Homo sapiens: one gene and its partners. The protein of the gene in region 1 purifies or fractionates together with the protein of each later gene. This does not show direct contact. Each region holds a gene or a part of one and is shown on either strand. Other genes may lie near its edges.

Region 1 (5,105 bases):
TGCGGAAGATCAGGGGGGTGTGCTGGCTCCTTGCGCCCCCCGCCTTCCCACCCTCACTCTGTGTTTAGGGTCAATTATCCTCCTTCTATAAACACAGGCTCCCAATGGAGGAAGGGGGGCACTGAAGATGCAGAGAACAAGCCCAAACACGTGAAGTGCTTTGCGGAGGCTGTTTCTGCAAGAGCATAAACCTTCTAAATCCAGAGGGAAGGATGCCCCACACCGAGCAACACACAGGGGGAAGAGAAAGAACAAGATGGACAAAAAAGGATGACAGCCAATTCCCCAAACCACTTGGCTGATTTACACAGAATCATCTATTTCTGTCCTGCCTCCTTTATTTTATAGGGAAGAACACTCAGGGTCTGAGTGCGGGCAGGGGTAGGAGCACAGCAGTCGGTGTGCTGCACATCCAGGTCTCCTGACTCCCAGCCCGGGATCTTCCCGCTGGCCCACCCTGCTTTCTGCCCCTAGTAGCTCCTCTGTGGCCATGGAAAACAGGAAGACTGAATTCTGGTTTGTTCTGATGGTGAGTGAGCGCATTTCAAAGAATAGCTATAACCCTGGTCCTCTCATCAATGTTCTGTCACATATAGTGACATTTCCCCCCAAAATTTTACTATGAAAATTCTCAAGCAGGCAAATGGTGAAATAATTTTACAGCAAACACCCATTTACCCGCTGCTTGAATTCTGAGCTTAACACTTGACTATATATATTTGTTTTTTTGTTTGTTTGTTTGTTTTTGTGAGACAGAGTCTCACTCTGTCATCCAAATTGGAGTGCAGTGGCACAATCTCAGCTCACTACAACCTCCACCTCTCGGATTCAAAGGATTCTCCTACCTCAGCCACCCGAGTAGCTGCAAATACAAGTGACCACCACCATGCCCAGCTAAGTTTTGTATTTTTAGTAGAAACAGAGTTTCACTATGTTGGCCAGGCTGGTCTCGAACTCCTGACCTCAAGTTATCCACCAGCCTCAGCCTCCCAAAGTGCTGGGATTACAGGCATGAGCCATCGTGCCTGCCCTTGACTATGTTTTCTTTATCACACATGTATCTATCCATCAATCCACTGTATTGTCTTTTTGCATTTCCAAGTAAGTTGCAGACACCAGTACATTTCAACTCTGAACAGTTCAGCTTGAATATTATTACCTAGAGTAAAAACCATTATTTGCTTTTTTTTTTGAGGTGAAAGTTACATGGAATGAAATATACCAATCTTAAATGCTCCACAATATTAGCTTTTTACAGAAAAGTTGTTAATGTTTTGAGTATTGAGAAACATCTCTCAAAATGTTGGGATTCCCTTAGGCTGGTCTGTAGCCCCCTCTTTGAATGTTGATGCAAATCACACCCAACGCTGTTGGAGCCAGGTAGAGACCAGCTGCTTGCTATCCACCTAAGGATTCCTTGAGTACCACAAACCCCCTTCTCCGTAATTCCCTCCACCCACCCTGTTTGACTTCCCTGCTGACCACTGTCTCTCTGCCAGGTGGCCTAGGCCCTCATGGCCACCTGCTAACCTTGCTGCAGCCTGGCCCACACTCTGGGACTTATCTCCTATAGGATGACAGGTGCTGGCCAGAGAGGTCAGGCCACAGCCTCATGCTCAGGGGTGAGGTGACAGCGGGGATGACAGCCCTCCAGCCCAGGGCTTCAGCTTGCCCAGAGATGGGGCCAGATCTGGGACAGTAGAATTGTCAGGGAGGGATTGGTTGTTGATCAAAGATGACTGAATCATTGGCCCCCAAAAAGGCCATGAGGTTGGTGAGAGGTGGAAGGAAGGGGAGGCAGACAACCTCACGTTACAGGGAATGAGTCCTGCTCCACAAAGCCTAGAGCAACCTCTCTGTCATGCGCTCGTTCATGATGGTTTGGATACAAGATAGTCACATCTCAACTGCATTCCTTCCTCAAGGTTCCCAGGGCCCTCCCTTCTACAAGATACACCTGGGGAGGCCAAGTCAGGACCAAAGCCAAGGAAGGGTCTTACACAAAGCCAAGGAAGGGTCTCAGGGGCTGTAGAGAAGAGACCTGACACCTGGCCTGTGACTCAGCATTCAATGTCAAAGGGACCAATGAAGAGAAGCACCCTTAGTTCATTTTCAGAGTTTCAGCAATTTCCTGGGTCCCAAATTTGGCAGATATCAGCTCTGAAGTGCTTGTATGCTAAACTGTTATTGTTGTTTTCACGAAAGTAATGCAGAGTAATTATAGAAAGTTTAGAGACTGCATATGAGAATAACCCTTTTCCATAATTCTATGACTATACCAAAAGAGTATCTCCATTTTGTTTTATATCCTTTCAGCCTTTTATCTACTCATGTGCATTTATATGTTTTTTAAAAAGTAAAATCAAATAAAAATGAAAAAGTAAATAGTGCTATTTTATAATCAACTTTGTAAAATCAACACAGCATCTTGACTATCTTTATATACAATTTAAAATGATTCTCGGTACTGTGTCTTTCACCTAAAATTTTTCCTTAAGAAATTTTAAAGTAAACATAAAAGTAGAATAGTGCAATAAACCCCACGTAATTATCACCCAGATTCTATTTATGAAGATTGTGACACATTTTTAAAATGTACTCATTTATCCTTTTTTTCTTTTTGCTAAAATAATATATGGCAAGTTCCAGATGTCACATCACTTCACTCCTACACACATATTTCAATCAGCTTCTCTAAAATATATTGACATTTCTTATACAACCACAATGCCATTAGGACACCTAGTACATTTTTTGGTATCATCTAATACTTAGCCCGTAATAAAATTTGTCAAAATGCATAAGCAATTTTTAAACATTGATTTATTTGAATTATGATTTCTAAATGAAAAATAAAAGTACTTGTTTAAGCAGACATGTTGGTGTCCAAAACACCAGGGAATGTTTCCCAAATTATCTCGTTAATGGGACCCTCTTGAGTTTCAAGACTATGTGTGTGGTGTTTTCACTGCTTCCTCTTATAAACATTAAGCAACAAATATTGCTTCCGTTCCCGGCACCTAAACCCGAGGATGAGCCCCGTCTGCCCAGTCCTACCTCTTCAGTGTTTCCAGCGGTTCCTTCCTGCTCATGACACCGGTGTCTGGGTCCACTGTGGTTAAAATGCATCTGGACACACACACAGAGCATCATAAGGGGGACAGAGCAGAGCGAACTTATCCCCACCTCCACCCCACAGGGACAGGAAAGCACCTTACCTGGAACAAGCCATCACCCTTTTCAGTTCCACGTCACCAATAAGAAGCTCATCCCAAGAATCCTAGGGGACAAAGCACAAATTCCCATGAGCATCTCTGGGCCCTGCCCCTGACACGTGTGTAGAGATTTCCCAGGAGCCCTCGCACCTAACGATGTCACCCACATCAGTGATGGCAGCCTTCTGTTCTCCCCCAGCCCTGCTCTGCCAAGTGATACCCACACACCTTGGCGTTCCCTCTCTCTGGCTTTGATATGCCAGTTGATTCCCCTGAGATGAGATTTCCCTCTCCTCTCACTTGTAAAAATGTCATGGAAACTCGCCTCGCTCAGGGAGGCTCCCTGATGATCCCACTTTGACTGGTGGTGGGGGGTGGGGTGCACAAAGTGAATGGGGTGGGTGAAAGTGGGGAGGGGGACAGATGGGGGCATTGTTCATTACTTCAGATTATATCAGATCCCTTAGTGCCTGCCTGAAGTTATATGGATCAAGAGCCTTAAGTCACTGAGTATGTGCATGTCTCCCCTAGCCAGATACGGACACATCAGGAGCAGGACCAGCAGCCTCATTCCTCTTTGATTTTTGCTGAAGTATTTACGAAGCACTGCAGCCAGGGGAGCTGTGGGCTGGGTCAGTGGAGCCTAGTTTCCACGACAAACCGCATTAGTGGACCAAGGCCCTCCAATCCAGCAGCCAAGATAGGCCATCCATACATGGAATTCTAAAGATAAATATTTTATTTTTAAATGCCAGAAATATTCACAAAAAGCACTCCAAGGCAGCACGTCATGTGTTGGTTTAACTGTGCTGGCAATGCTTACTCTGGGGATTCAGAGGCATGACTCTCCAGGCTGGTCTGGTTACAGGAAGTTTTATAAGGAATAGGTAAGATGGGTGCTGAGTCTAAAAGGGCAGAGAGTTTGAGAGGCACAAAAGAAGGGTAAGGGGACTCCAGGCAGAGGGGACAGCAATAAGAAGGAAGGGCGCTGAGGAGGCAAAGGACATTTGATTATAGTCCTGACCTTCTTACCCTCGGAGAGAATTGCCCACCACACGAGGGCGGAAGGCAAAGACCTGGAGTTAAAAAGCAAACTGCCTTGTCCTTGGATGATCATGAGCTCAGAATTTTAACTCCAATAGTGTGTGTTATTCTTGATATATATGACACAGGGGTTTTGTTCTATCGTAAATCATAAAATGGATCTCAAGCACATATTTTCAACAGTCCAGAAAACTGGGCACAGCGGATTAGCACAGCCACAGCCTGTCCTGTGAACATTTCTCCACAAGGGGGCACTATGGTCACAAAAAAACACATAAAAAGGGTATAAAAGGAGAGAAATAAGGGTTCCACTTAGGAAATTAAGTTATTATTAATTAAAGAAATACTTCCAGAGCCCCTTCTATTCCAAAAAAAAAACTACTGGAGATTGAGTCATAAGCACTGATGAGCCCAGGAAAGTCTTCCTACAGCACCTGGAGGTGACCAGTTCAAACAGGACAAGCCTGGTATGGGAGAGGCTCAGAGCACACGGTAGCTTCAGAGAAGGGAGGGAGCGCTTTGAGGTCCAGCAATCAGAGCAGGCTTCCCAGGGGAGGGGGCTTTTAATCCAGGCTTTTAGAGAATGTCAAGAGTTTTAAGTAGGGAAGGGAGTAAGATTCTCAGTGACCAGGAGACACCAGTTTGCAGTTTGGAGCTTTCGTTCGTGATATGGTTTGGCTGTGTCTCCACCCAAATCTCATCTTGAATTGTAGCTCCCATAATCCCCATGTGTCATGGGAGGGACCCAGTTGGAGGTAATTGAATCATGGGGGCGGGTCTTTCCCATGCTTTTTTTGTGATAGTGAATAAATCTCATGAGATCTGATGGTTTTATAAAGGGCAGTT
Region 2 (5,105 bases), on another chromosome or scaffold:
AACTTGAAGTGACAGGCCTGCACATAATTAATATCTGCCCTTTATGGCTGCTGTCAACTCTACTAAGATAGTGTAGACTTTTCTAGACTCCTTGGAATGGAATTTTATCCTTTACCTAATATTAATTAATTTGCATTTGAACTTATATGCAGACTCCCTCCTTATTCCAGTAAGCTGTACATTCTACCATTCTCTTGTCAAATTAAGAAGGCCTTAAGATATGCACCAATTACGTTTCCTAGTATTAGTTTCCCACAACTACAGGTAAGTAGTTTGCTGCACTCATTACACAAGTTTTTCAATTAGTATTCACAAAGTTCTCAAAATTTAGTTAAAATTTAACGTTTTGTAGTCACTTCAGTGTTCTGCTCCTTCTTATAAAGCTAGCAAATTATATCTAATTGGCTTGTGAAGTCTACCCTTCCACAGCAGTTACAAAACATTTTTAAAAATTTTTAAATGACTATTGTAATGTATGTGGTCCAGTACTTTATATTTAAACTTGCTGATTTTAAAAGTAAAGTCTCATGACTCATAACTATTTTACTCTTTTTTTACATCAACAGAATGACACAATACATTAAAATTTTTTGCTTAGCTTATTGCTGTTTTCCCTGCCATTTCTGCTACATGAGCAATTTACCAATCACTGAATTTTACAGTAATCCCTCTAAGCAATTCCTGTATTTCCTCAAATGGGCTCTTCCAATTTTTCTACAGCATAATTCTGACTTCAATTTCAAATATGGTACACTAATCTAATTCTAGTTTCTTCTTCCCTAAAGTATTTCTTTTATCCTAAGAACAAAATGCTCATACTTCAGCAAACTCAATTATATCAAAGCTTTAAATTGATGATTGATTCATGAATGCTAAAAGGTCTCTAGATTAAAAAAAAAATTTAATACAAGCAAACTCTTAAAATACAAATGCAGAACAAACTGCTTTATGGTTAATATGAAGCAGATTTAAGCTCCATTACTCTGACTAAAGTAATTAAGGGAATTCAGCAGTTTACATATGGTACAGCTTAAACATCATGCTCTAGTTCATTTATAGGCTCTAGTTCATTTATAATCCAAGCATGCAAAAATCATGAAATGAAGATAGACCAAATGAAAAAGTAAATTATCCAGTACTTTCTTAGTGTGGCTCCCTGTCTCTAACATTAATTTGCTTCTTCTCTAATAGGGAGAGAGACTGTTCATTTAATCACTTCTCATTCCAATGTCAGAACACACTAAATAAAACGGAGCCTTCAAAATTGCTGTTCAAATGAAACAATTCTGCCATCTGCAGGCTGGATGAAATAAGGCAGAATAAAGTAAAAGTAATTTAAAAATCAGCACTAGGCACAGAGTAATATTAACACTTGGAATAAAGGCAGTTATAGTATTTTTTGTTTTAAAGGATCGTTTGTCATATAAGTCTTCTTTGTTCAAATAGTTATTTTGGTGTGGTACTGGAGTAAAAATAGACTGAAAATGTCAATGGACCACAACAGAAAATGAATGCACAACAGTTTGTGTGAAAACAGCATTTACAGGTCTTGGCATGCTAACAAACATAAAAAAGATAACCCATAAGCAATATATAGGTTGAGTATGCCTTATCAGAAATGTTTGGGACTATAAGAGTTCTTAATTTCAGATTTTTTCAGATTTTGGAATATTTGCATTCATTATTCTTACTGGTTGAGCATCCCTAATCTCAAAGTCCAAAATCCCAAATGCTACAATGAACATTCCTTTGAGCATCACCTCTGAGCATCATGTCAGTGCTCAAAAAGCTTTGGATGTCAGATTTTCAGATTAGAGATGCTCAAACCTGTATATGGCATCATCCAATTACTACCTGCCCAGCTTGTACACATACAAAGATTGAAATGAAATACTCCAAAATGACAATAGTAGTCATTCTAGCTAGTGATATTACTATAAGGGCTTTTTATTTCTTTTATTTCTGATAACCTACATTTTCATACATGTCTACAATAAATTTATCCAATCTTACTTCCTCTTTCAAACTTAACTAACACTAAGTTTAAAAATGTGCTGTTTGCTTTTGTTAATTTTAAGCAGAAACCCACAAGGACACAGAGAAAAGGAATAACAGCATACAATTTTGGAAGCAGAAAAGTAAATAGATACGTAATAATCAATTAAAGAGACCCTAGAAAGCTGTATCCTAAGCCAGGGAGGATTTGGGTGGCTGCTGTTTGAAAAGTAGCTAGATACCTGGATCCCCTCTCTTAATCCAGTGGTAGGTAACAACCCTACCCTCATTCAACAGAAGACTGAAGCTTGTTTTCTCTGCAGAGGGCAAAAAGAAGAGCTTGAAGTTCAATCTACATAGCTGAGGATATATAAAAACTGCAAAAATAAGTTAAGTGAGAAAGTATCTGATGTGGCTGACATTACAGAAAACTGTGTGGAGAAGCTATTACATACCGTGAGATAAATTAGAAATTATCACAGAAAAAACTAACTAAAAATTTAAAGGGCAGCAATAACTGCAGCAAAAAGAAAGCTAACAAACAAAATATGGGACAATCCTCAATTGTGCATAATATTTGTTTAATGTAAACACTGAATATTTGACCAAGAATTACAAAATAATTTCACTGGGGAGGGAAAACAGAGGGCGGCACTGACCGGCAGTCATCCACAGAAAACGGCTAAAATAGAAACAGAGAGATGGGCAAATGCCAGAAGAAAGTTAAGAGACAAAACTAGTTACTTCTAAGGAAGACTGGGAAAGTTGGGTGAGATGGGGCAGAGATCCACTGTACTGTTACAAGCCTTTCAGTACTATTTAAACTATATGCATGTACTATTGTGCTAAATGAAATATTTTATTATTTAAATATTTAATTTAAAAAAACTCAAGGAGAAGCAGAATACCACAGTGATTTAGAGAATAGGTACTGGAATCAAACTGCCTAGGCTCTAATTTCAGATCCACCACCTACAAGTTATTTATTCTATCTATGTCTGTTTCCTCTTCTCTAAAATGGTGCCATAAATAGATTTTTGTAAAGAAATAAGGTAGGCCGGGAGCAGTGGCTCATGCCTGTAATCCCAGCACTTTGGGAGGCTGAGGCGGGTGGATCACATTAGGTCAGAAGTTCAAGACCAGCCTGGACAACATGGTGAAAGCCCGTCTTTACTAAAAATACAAAAATTAGGCTTGGTGGCACATGCCTATAGTCCCAGCTACTTGGGAGGCCTGAAACCGGGAGGCAGAGGTTGCAGTGAGCCGAGACCGCCCCACTGCACTCCAGTCTGGGCGACAGAGTAAGGCTCCATCTAAAAAAATAGAAAGAAAGAAAGAAGGTAACACATGGGACTTGGCAAAGAATAAGTCTCAAAAATGTTAGTTATTTATTTTTGATGGGCAGCATAGAAACAATTAAGAGGGTATATTCTGGAGGCATCCAGATAGCTGGCTAGATGTATCACAATATCCTATTACATTGTAAGATGTCACAATATTGTAGAATATCACAGTTCCTTCTTGGAGTAATGAGAGATGCATTCACAGGTTCCTTTCACCTTCCCAGCCTAAACTTGAAGGTTCCCTTTTTACTCTCTCCTTTACCTTATTCAGCAGTGTTCTCATGACTAAAGTACACTAATTCTTGATCTCTATTCTAACTACATTTCATACTTGAAAACCAACCTCTCATTAAAATCACTGGCAAATGTTTTACCTTCAGTGCTCATACTATTCACTTCCAAAGCTAAAAGCCAAATCAGGCATTCAACAAATGCCTACTGAACACTTGTTATCCTAGCCCTAGACCAAACCAGATTCTCGACCTCAAAAGGATTAAAATTTAGATGAGAAGATAAATACACAAGTACTAGACAGTAGTAGATAAAAATGCCATTAGACCATCAAAGAATTATGAGAGCTGAGATTCTACCTGATGGAACACTGGAAAACAACAACAAAAAAATCTGTACTAGTATTACTTAATATCTATTAGGATGGCTATTATCCAAAAAAAAGCTAGGAAATGACCAAAATGTTTATGGAAATAGTCTCTAGACTAGGTGGTATTTACAGACAAATTACAGGGAGATCTGAGTCCTCTGGACTCAGAATTATATATAAAATTGTGTATGTATGCACTTTCCTGAAGAAGTTAGTGGTATAGCTTTTATAGTTTAACAGATTTGTTCCCCTCCAAAAACCAGGGCTAATATATTCCCAAGAAATCTCTCCTGAATTATACATTTGCTGATCCTAATTTTTCCCTAGGAATGTTTCATATAATAAAGTCCTTGATTTATACAGTAACAGAAAGATATCAAGCAGATCACTAGCTATAGTAAATGTACTGCCTACCAAAAAAATGAATCACCCATATACCCCATCTTGTTCATAGAATCTGCTGATTCTATATTATTATACTTCTACTTAGTATCCAATGGCACATTAGAAAAGAGGTTAGCCAGAATTTTTAGATAGCATATGGTGTAGAATGCATTTCCTTTGAATGAAATAAACCAAACATTTTAGAAGAGATTTCAGCTTGGAATACTGTCCTTCTTGGTATTAAACTATAAAATTAAAATTCTACATGAAGTTCACTTTACTTTGCCATCTTGGGAGAAGAGCCAAAAGAAATTACCATTCCATTTACAGCCTAGCAAAAGAATACATACACACACACACACACACACACACACACACACACAACGATACTTTGGGAATTTACACATTTTGTCGTAAAAGGCAAATTAAGCTCAAGACAACAACAAGAAGGTATATTTAAGAGTACATCACCTTAGAAATTTACAGATAGGAGAAGTCAATATATACTCTAACTCTCTTAAATAGTCCTGCCACCCTTACACGTAGTCAAGAATTTTGGTGTCCTTAATTGTTCTAAAATGATAGGCTGTCACAGAAATGCTAGTCTACAATGCGGTTATTACTATGTCTGATTTCATTTTTTTAAAAAAAGCAAAAATGTTCATTTAGGATGTACACACGGTGAACTTTAAAACGTCAGCATGCTGACACTGTTCTGCTGAAATCTATAATCAAGCTATCACTTGATACTGAGGTAGACTATGGTTAAGGAAACAGGCATT
Region 3 (5,105 bases), on another chromosome or scaffold:
CCCGGGAGGGCACTCAGCCCATCCAGGTGTGTCCCCGGGAGGGAACTCAGCCCATCCTGGGGGAGGCACCTTTCAGAAAGCTCTAAATTTGAAGTCACTGAAGGGTTGGGGTTTCCATCTAAAATCCTACAGCTGCAGTCTGTGTTCATGCTTGTTGTTGCTAGGACTTCACCATAGATGTATGGATCTTACCCTTTTTGCCACAATTGTTTGCTATGCCAGAGAAAAAAATCCAAGTCAATGACTTCTAAAGTGGTTTGCTCACATTTGGCCACCCACATGGTTTGGGTGTTTTGTTGGTTTTCCAAATTTCTAATCTTGATTTTTACTATTGTTCCCTAATACCACAATGATCTCATTTTTTAAACTACGATATAAATAACCCATAGAATGAATATGCCAGATTTTACTAACCACACCTGACTGATACAAAGATGTGTACACACAGCTTTGTGCAAAGGGTGATTCTCTCTATAGATTAGGTGTGCAGAGTGGATGGCTGCTCAACTCTTTAAGCTTTTGCTGCATGGACCACTGACCTCTTACCTGCTCTGCTTCCTCCTCCCCTACCCGGCCACAGCCCCTCTGCCCACCATCACCCCAGGCCCAGCATAGTCCCTGGGATTCACGAGCTCACCTCTGCTGAGTTGTGGACATTGGAGCTGCTGGGACAGGTATTTCCATTCTGAGCAAAGATGAACACGTGGGGCAGGTTCAGGGGCAGGAGGGAGCTCCCTTTCCCACTCACCTTTGGCCCTTCGGATGAGGGGGAGAAAGGATTTCGTCATCCGCACTGTGCCCCAAAGGTTCACTTCTGCCACCTGCTTGTAGGTCTCCAGGCTGGTGAACTCCACCTCCCCGAACGTTGAGATGCCGGCATTGTTAACGAGGCCCCACATGCCTGGACAGGAGAGGGATAGATGTGCATTTACCACATGGGCTTGGCCCAGACATTGCCCATCAGCCTGCAGGCCAGCCTCCTCTCTGCTTCTTTCCTGTGACTTCCCAGCCTCTCGCCCAGTGCTCTCAAGAAACTTTCTAGAGTCACTCAGGAACGACAGGAGGTAAAGAGGCCTAAAGTGCTGACTGCAGCCCTCCCTTGCGTCTAGAATGTCCAGTCCTCACGTCACATCTGCCTGGCTCGAGTCTCTGGGCCCATCATGACCCAGCCTGCCGTGTCCCCCGGCCTTCAGTCTCACCTCACCTCAAATTCCCACTTCCACTCCACTCCACCCCATCCCATCCCCACACCCTGAGTTTGAGTTTCACGCCCCGTTCCTGTTTACTCATCTCTGCCCTTGAGCTTTTGCTCACGTCTTCTCTTCTCTTGCCAGAAGCCAGGGAAATCACAGGGGAGGTGGGCACGAGGAGGCAGCTGTGTTTTGCAGGGACCTCTCTGAGTTCAGTTTGTTGGGGTGCAAAGGCTGGATGGGTCAGAGCCTCAGGACAGAGCTGGGCCCTGCCTCTTTGTTGTGGAAACCCTCAGTGTTTGGTCTCCCGGGCCGATAGCCCCGTGCTCCTTCCCAAGGCACAGCCTCAGAGCAGAGCTCCCATCCTGGGGCCCTCCCCTGCCTGTGGGAACTCGGCGCTGCTTTATTTTCCAAGTTAATCATGGAAATGAGTTTGTGTAAATGACAGAGTAATTGGTCTCTAGCTGCTTTCCTTCCGTGTTACCCAAATTAAAGCTTCATTCACTGCCCTCTGGTGCCTTCTCCTTCAATTATGGAGAATTAAGGGCATTTATTAGGGAAAGGAAATTGCTGGTTAACAGAGTGTCCATGAAGAGCTCACTCCCACTCTCCACCAAAGCCTTGCGGGTGTCTCCCTGCTCTAGGTCTCACCTGTGACCTCGCTCAGATGCTAATGACAGGATCAGCGTCATCCACGACCCCACAGCTCCCACTGTCTCCCTGCAGACGCGCCCTGAGTCTTCACCTTCTTCTCTTCCCAGGAGGAGCAGCAGGCCACTCCCCACCCGTCATGGCTGACACTTCCACGTCATCTTCGAGACCATAGCCACTGATCCTTCTCTCTCTTTTACACAATTTCAGCTTTTCCACTGCCCATGACTCCATCCCTTCAGTTCTATACACATTAGGAGCTCAACAAATGTGTGTTAGATGAATGAGTGTCCACAAATACCGCATTTCCATATCCCGAAGATCCTTCTGTAACTGTGCTACCTGCTCTCCCTCCCTCCACGCCAGGCTTCCAAGAACTCTATCCTGTAATACAAAGATTAGCCGGGTGTGGTGGCGGGCACCTGTAGTCCCAGCTACTCGGGAGGCTGAGGCAGGAAAATCTCTTGAACCCAGGAGGCAGAGGTTGCAATGAGCCGGATCATGCCACGGCACTCCAGCCTGGGTGACAGAGCACGCACACACACACACACACACACACGCGCGCGCGCGCGCTCTATCCTCTCCATCTCCCTTCCATACCACACTGGGTCCCAGCCCTCAGCTGTCCTGACCACGCAGTCTCCAGGGTCTCCAGGGTGGTACACCAAGGACCTCACCCCCAGTCTTCACTCTCCTCAGGCTCGCTACGATATGAGTACTGCCAGTACTCCTTGAGGCTCACCTCTCCCTCAGCATTAGTGATACCCAGGCATCTCCTGCATCTTCCCTGACACCTTTCTTTCACCTGCCCCCAGATACAAGTGGCCCCCAATGTCCTGGCCTAATCCTGCTCCTCTCAAAGTACACTTAACTCTTAGGTGTCCTCATCTTCTTCATGTTTGTGAATTTTGCAGCCGTTTTGTGTTTGATTCATAACGGACAATATCCCATGACTTAAAATGCATACAGCCCTTTCTCTACCTAAAAATAAAACAATGACATTTGACGCTACTATCCAAAAAAGTTTAATGAAACATGACCTGTGAAAGTGCACAGCCCCTGGATTACAGCTTTAATGAGTGTTGAGAGTGGTGGACCTAGTTGCCATCTGGAATCCTCAGCCAATGTTCTGAATAAACTCACGGAGGCATGCCCGCTGGTTGGGTGACAGCAACTTTCCTGTAACATCCCCAAGATCGCCTCCGCACCAGTGGCCCCTCAGTTCTCCTTGGGAGTCACGGCTCTCTCTCCTCATCCCATCTCCTGTCTCGCTTCCACCTGAATGTCCCACGGGTCCCTGACTCACCCTAACCACAACCAACACGTCAAGTTTCCAAGCTGCCCAAGCCTGCTCCTCCTCTTTGTTAATGATTTTACTTTTGTCTGTGACTCCTCCAGCTCCTCCACCCCTCCCCCACCTACTGAGTCACCCAGTACTGCTAATATTACAGCTCAAGATCAACATGACAGCTGGCAGACCCCTAATCAAGCCCTTTACATTCATTAACTTCCCTGATCCTCACAACCACCCTGGAAAATAGATCCTAAATTGTCTCATATCCGGTTGAGGCAACTGAAGCTCAGAGAGGTTAAGCACCTTGGTCAATGTCACCCAGCTAACAGGCAGGGAGGGTGGGATTTGGACCCAGATCTCTCTGAGGACAAAGTCCCCACGCCCCAGGCTGTTGCTGGTTTCCTCTGCTGGGTCAGTTCTTCCTTCCTGTTTCCACTAGCATTCCCTTGGGTCCTCGCTGCCTGTCTCCTGGGCTGCTGGAGAAGCCTCCTGGGTCTGTTTGTCTCACTCACTCCTCCACCTCCGTCTTCACCCCACCCCTCAGGCAGACCCATCAGTCACTTCCTGCTCTATGGTCTCCATCCCCCCTCAGGCCGACCCCCGCATCAGTCATTTCCTGCTCTATGGTCTCCATCCCCCCCTCAGGCCGACCCCCGCATCAGTCATTTCCTGCTCTATGGTCTCCATCCCCCCCTCAGGCCGACCCCATCAGTCACTTCCTGCTGTATGTCTCCATCCCCTCCTCAGGCTGACCCCCCCACCCCATCAGTCATTTCCTGCTCTATGGTCTCCATCCCCCCTCAGGCCGACCCCCTCATCAGTCATTTCCTGCTCTATGGTCTCAATCCCCCTTCAGGCCGACCCCCCCATCAGTCACTTCCTGCTCTATGGTCTCCATCCCCCTTCAGGCCGACCCCCCCATCAGTCACTTCCTGCTCTATGGTCTCCATCCCCCCTCAGGCCGACCCCCCCAATCAGTCACTTCCTGCTCTATGGTCTCCATCCCCCTTCAGGCCGACCCCCCCATCAGTCACTTCCTGCTCTATGGTCTCCATCCCCCCTCAGGCCAACCCCCTCATCAGTCATTTCCTGCTCTATGGTCTCCATCCCCCTTCAGGCCGACCCCCCCATCAGTCACTTCCTGCTCTATGGTCTCCATCTCCCCCTCAGGCTGACCCCCCCAATCAGTCACTTCCTGCTCTATGGTCTCCATCTCCCCCTCAGGCTGACCCCCCCCATCAGTCACTTCCTGCTCTATGGTCTCCATCTCCCCCTCAGGCTGACCCCCCCCAATCAGTCACTTCCTGCTCTATGGTCTCCATCTCCCCCTCAGGCTGACCCCCCCAATCAGTCACTTCCTGCTCTATGGTCTCCATCTCCCCCTCAGGCTGACCCCCCCCATCAGTCACTTCCTGCTCTATGGTCTCCATCTCCTCATCAGGCTGACCCCCCCCAATCAGTCACTTCCTGCTCTATGGTCTCCATCCCCCCTCAGGCCGACCGCCCCCCATCAGTCACTTCCTGCTCTATGGTCTCCATCTCCCCCTCAGGCTGACCCCCCCAATCAGTCACTTCCTGCTCTATGGTCTCCATCTCCCCCTCAGGCTGACCCCCCCCAATCAGTCACTTCCTGCTCTATGGTCTCCATCTCCCCTCAGGCCGACCCCCCCCCATCAGTCACTTCCTGCTCTATGGTCTCCATCCCCCCTCAGGCCGACCCCCCCCATCAGTCACTTCCTGCTCTATGGACTCCATCCCCCCCTCAGGCCGACCTCCCCGATCAGTCACTTCCTGCTCTATGGTCTCCATCTCCCCCTCAGGCTGACCCCCCCGATCAGTCACTTCCTGCTCTATGGTCTCCATCCCCCCCTCAGGCCGACCCCCCCGATCAGTCACTTCCTGCTCTATGGTCTCCATCTCCCCCTCAGGCTGACCCCCCCAATCAGTCACTTCCTGCTCTATGGTCTCCA
Region 4 (4,519 bases), on another chromosome or scaffold:
CTGTGTCTGTCACTCAGTTTGGAGTGCAGTGGCGCGACCTTGGCTTACTGCAACTTCTTCCTCCTGGGTTCAAGTGATTCTCCTGCCTCGGTTCCCCCCCCAACCCCCTGGGTAGCTGGGATTACAGGCACGTGCCAGCACGCCTGGCTACTGTTTGTTTTTAGTTGAGGTCCAGCACATATAGAAAGTGCACACATCCTGGCCAGGCTAGTGGCTCATGCCTGTAATCCCAGCACTTCTGGAGGCTGAGGCGGGCGGATCACAAGGTCAGGAGATCAAGACCATCCTGGCTAACACGGTGAAACTCTGTCTCTACTAAACATACAAAAAATTAGCCGGGCGTGGTGGCGGGTGCCTGTAGTCCCAGCTACTCGGGAGGCTGAGGCAGGAGAATGGCGTGAATCCGGGAGGCGGAGCTTGCAGTGAGCCAAGATCGCGTCACTGCACTCCAGCCTGGGCAACGGAATGAGACTCCGTCTCAAAAAAGAAAAAAGAAGGAAAGTGCACACATCCTAGGTGTACAAGTCGTCGCAAAACACATGCGTGGCGAGCTGCCACCCAGGAGAAACAGAACATGGCCAGCCCTCTGGAAGTCTTCCCTCCTGCTCCTATCAACTCCTCCCTCCCCTTCTGAGGCTTCCACTGGCCTAACTTCCTCCTTTTTTTTTGAGACACGGTCTTGCTCTGTCACCCTAGGTGGAGTGCAGTGGTGCAATCATAGCCCACTGCAGCCTTGATTTCCCAGGCTCAAGCAATCCTCCCACCGCAGCCTCTCAAGTAGCTGAAACTACAGGCACACACCACCATGCCTAGCTCATGTTTTTTTTGAAGTTATTAGTAGAGATGGGGTCTTGATATGTTGCCCAGCTGGTCTCAAACTACTGGGCTCAAGTGATCCTCCTGCCTTGGCCTCCCAAAGTGCTGGGATGACAGGCCTGGCCCACTGTCCTCACTTCCAACACCACGGGTCCCTTTTGCCTGGTTGAATATAATTGCAGCTGTACCCTAGGATCATCAGGGGCCACCCGAGTCTGTGTCAGTCCGTACTGTCACATGGCCACAGACTATCTCATGGCTGGGACAGTCACAGTTTATTCCCCCAGGCCCTTGGGACTGAAAGAATCCAAGATCTGGATCTCCTCTATAGCGCCCAGAACCACAGCCACCGTCCTGAAGCACACGGCCTTCACACGTTTCTACACGAAGGGAGTTTTCTGTCCTGCTTCCTTGGACACAGCAATAATCAGGGAGCAGTTGTCTTGACCTATGATGAGGGGGTGACCGGCCATCCCTGGGCATGGGATGGGGAGTGTGGGTGGGGGCTGGCTGTGGGGGCTCCGCGCCTGGATGTGATGTTGAAATTTTGTGTTGCTTTAACCGCCTTTACTTTCTGAGCTAGGGGCTGTCTCCATCCATAGCAAAAGTGTAACTTTGTTGTAGATGGGCGTAAGCCTCACCCTGGAGAGCGCTAGTAAGTACAGACCAGGTGAACCAGATCCCAGCCTGGACCCCACCCTGTCATGCCCATCTCCCCAACCCCAGAGTTCCCTCCGTAGCAGGGGACAGGGAGGGTGTGAGGCAAGCTTGGGCTCAGCACAGGTCCTGGGGTGGGGGCTCGGGCTGGCCAAAAAAAATCAGCCCCCTCTGGATTGGGGGTCCTCATGTGGGGGTCTCTCGGCCCTATGGGGAGCTGGGAGCTTCCTAAACTTGTGTCCAAATGACTAGTTTCCCAGGGGTGGGTCCGTTCCCATCAATCCTCAAAGGAGAGCCTGGCACCCCAAGATTTTAAGAGCCTGAGCTATAAATGACAAGACTTGGGACACTGGGCCACAGTTCCTCTCCCAGAGAGCAAGGGCTCGTCACAGACTGAGGGGTACTGAGGGGTCAGAAACAAAGTGGGGAGAGGCCTCTGCCCACATTGGTGGGAGAAGCTGAGTTGACCTAAGCCTGACATTCCCCAGCCGGCTGGACTTGGGCATTCACCAGTGTCTGTGATCTGCAAAGACTTCACAACACTACCCAGGTGGCACTGAGTATCCAACCTGGGAAGGGACAGCTCCATGTCACATCAGTTCTACTCACACAGCCCTCTTAGTGCCAGTGTTGGGGCTGCAGGAGGAACAGAGATCCCCCCAGAGGCCCCAGAACATTGAAGGGAGAGCAGCAAACCTCGCATCAAGGTGTTGGCCAAGAACTGGGCCTCCAGGGTGGGAGGGTGCTTCGGGCCAATCTTGAAGCATTGGCTTCCAGCTGTTGAGGTCCTGGGGGTACTGAGATGGTACTTGTTTCCTAACAAAACATTTTTTATAAGTGCATTCACCAATAGAGGGCCCACCTATTCTGGTGGAGAGAATTGGAAAAGGTTCCAGAATCCGGGCAGAAGCCTGGCTGTTCCCGGTGAGGGCTCTCCCTTGCTAGCACTCCCTCCCACCCTCACTCTGAGCAACACAGCTGCTCATGTCCCTGGAGAGGACAGCTTTGGCCAAGTTGTTAAACATCTCTGAGCCTGTCTTCCCATCTTGGAAATGGGGGCAGTTGTCCCAATGCCGAGATAATTGAGTGTGAAGCCCTCCCCTGTCCCATGCTGCCTAGTACCGAAGGCACTTGCTCTGTGGCCCTGGCTGTAAGAATGATCATTTCTGAGTCAGACCTAGGGAACCAGCCCCTGAGAATGTGACTTGACCTAGTTTACTCCCACCGCCCGCTCTGCAACTCTGAGCCTCCTATTGAGCAAAGATAAGCTCATAGGCAACAAAGAGCACTTTGACATGGAAGAGGTTCTGGGCCACTGGGCTCGGAGGCAGCGGGGCCTGACCAGCGCCCCAGGCCCCAGAGCTGCTGACGTGGGTCCCCAAGGAGGTTGTTGGCTGTTCTCTTGCCACCACTCTATTAACTCATAACTGCTGTTCTCACGAGAGGCTACTGGCAGAGACCAGGCAGGAGCTCCTGGAGCCAAGGTCATTGCTTTTATTTTTATTTATTTATTTATTGAGATGGAATGTTCCTTTCTCGCCCAGGCTGGAGTGCAGTGGCATGACCTCACTGCATCCTCTGCCTCACGGGTTCAAGCAATTCTCCCACCTCAGCCTCCTGAGTAGCAGGGATTACAGGCGTATGCCACCACACTAGGCTAATTTTTTTTACAGACACGATTTCGCCACGTTGGCCAGGCTGGTCTTGAACTCCTGACCTCAAGTGATCCACCCACCTCAGCCTCCCAAAGTGTTGGGATTACAGGCGTGAGCCACTGCACCTGGCCAGGCTCATCACTTTTTGCGCCTATTGCCTCGAAGCCAGTCTCTGATGGGACATTAGGGCAGGGGCCCTTCAGCCTAGTCTGGGACATGGGCCGCTCACTCAGCAGTATGACAAGCATCACCTGGAGAACGGGCCAGTCTCAGGAGGTCGTTCATGCCCCACTGGCAGTGCACTGTGCAGCCATAGTGTAAACAAGAGGCTTAACCTGAATTGGTCTGAGATCTTGGGGACCCCCTACCCTGTCTCCAGCAGCCTGTCCCTTTAGCTGTTTGCCTACTGGCACCCCATCCTGAGAAGGCATAGATACCCGGCCCACCCTGCCCTGGAATTACAAAAGTCTTAGACTGTGCCTGAGTGCCCGGCCTCCTTGGGAGACCCTCCTAGGCAGCCTAAGCACCAGACCCGGGAGCTGGGTGCTCTGGTCCTGCCTGCCTGCCTCTCACTGGACCCTCTCCTTCCAGGTACGGCTTCAGGTCCAGAGCGTGGAGAAGCCTCAGTACCGCGGGACGTTGCACTGCTTCAAGTCCATCATCAAGCAAGAGAGCGTGAGTGGCCTGGGCTGGTGGGGCTCGGGAGGCACAGGATGGGGAACTAGCTTCCGGGCTGCCACCACCCCAGACCAGAGAGCCAGGAAGGAAGGTGTCAGGACGACCAGGAGGCCAGTCAGGACCTAGGTTCTAACGAAATTCTGCTTGGTCCTCAGGAGCCCCTGGGGTGGGCTGGGGCTGCCATCCCCCGACCCCCTTCCGCGTGGAGGGCCCGGGAGGTGCGCGTTGCCGGCTCTGATGGCGTCTCTGTCCCCGCAGGTGCTGGGCCTGTACAAGGGCCTGGGCTCGCCGCTCATGGGGCTCACCTTCATCAACGCGCTGGTGTTCGGGGTGCAGGGCAACACCCTCCGGGCCCTGGGCCACGACTCGCCCCTCAACCAGTTCCTGGCAGGTGCGGCGGCGGGCGCCATCCAGTGCGTCATCTGCTGCCCCATGGAGCTGGCCAAGACGCGGCTGCAGCTGCAGGACGCGGGCCCAGCGCGCACCTACAAGGGCTCGCTGGACTGCCTCGCGCAGATCTACGGGCACGAGGGTCTGCGTGGCGTCAACCGGGGCATGGTGTCCACGTTGCTGCGTGAGACGCCCAGCTTCGGCGTCTACTTCCTCACCTATGACGCTCTCACGCGGGCGCTGGGCTGCGAGCCGGGCGACCGCCTGCTGGTGCCCAAGCTGCTGTTGGCGGGCGGTACGTCAGGCATCGTGTCCTGGCTCTC

Evidence for each region.
Region 2: the proteins of MTARC1 (region 1) and PDHX fractionate together in Homo sapiens (co-fractionation; one large-scale study listed by BioGRID). This does not show direct contact.
Region 3: the proteins of MTARC1 (region 1) and BDH1 purify together in Homo sapiens (affinity purification with mass spectrometry, with the first as the bait; one large-scale study listed by BioGRID). This does not show direct contact.
Region 4: the proteins of MTARC1 (region 1) and SLC25A29 purify together in Homo sapiens (affinity purification with mass spectrometry, with the first as the bait; one large-scale study listed by BioGRID). This does not show direct contact.

What each region holds. Positions count from the first base shown.
Region 1 is NC_000001.11:220,803,227-220,808,331, reverse strand, and holds part of MTARC1 (mitochondrial amidoxime-reducing component 1 precursor), read right to left. Parts: intron 3,281-5,105; coding exon 3,219-3,280; intron 3,130-3,218; coding exon 3,058-3,129; intron 1-3,057. UniProt on the Homo sapiens protein: Catalyzes the reduction of N-oxygenated molecules, acting as a counterpart of cytochrome P450 and flavin-containing monooxygenases in metabolic cycles.
Region 2 is NC_000011.10:34,922,466-34,927,570, reverse strand, and holds part of PDHX (pyruvate dehydrogenase protein X component, mitochondrial isoform 1 precursor), read right to left. Parts: intron 1-5,105.
Region 3 is NC_000003.12:197,513,516-197,518,620, forward strand, and holds part of BDH1 (D-beta-hydroxybutyrate dehydrogenase, mitochondrial precursor), read right to left. Parts: intron 902-5,105; coding exon 749-901; intron 1-748.
Region 4 is NC_000014.9:100,292,578-100,297,096, reverse strand, and holds part of SLC25A29 (mitochondrial basic amino acids transporter), read left to right. Parts: exon of another isoform or gene 1-1,471; intron 1,472-3,719; coding exon 3,720-3,803; intron 3,804-4,064; coding exon 4,065-4,519. UniProt on the Homo sapiens protein: Mitochondrial transporter of arginine, lysine, homoarginine, methylarginine and, to a much lesser extent, ornithine and histidine. Does not transport carnitine nor acylcarnitines. Functions by both counter-exchange and uniport mechanisms.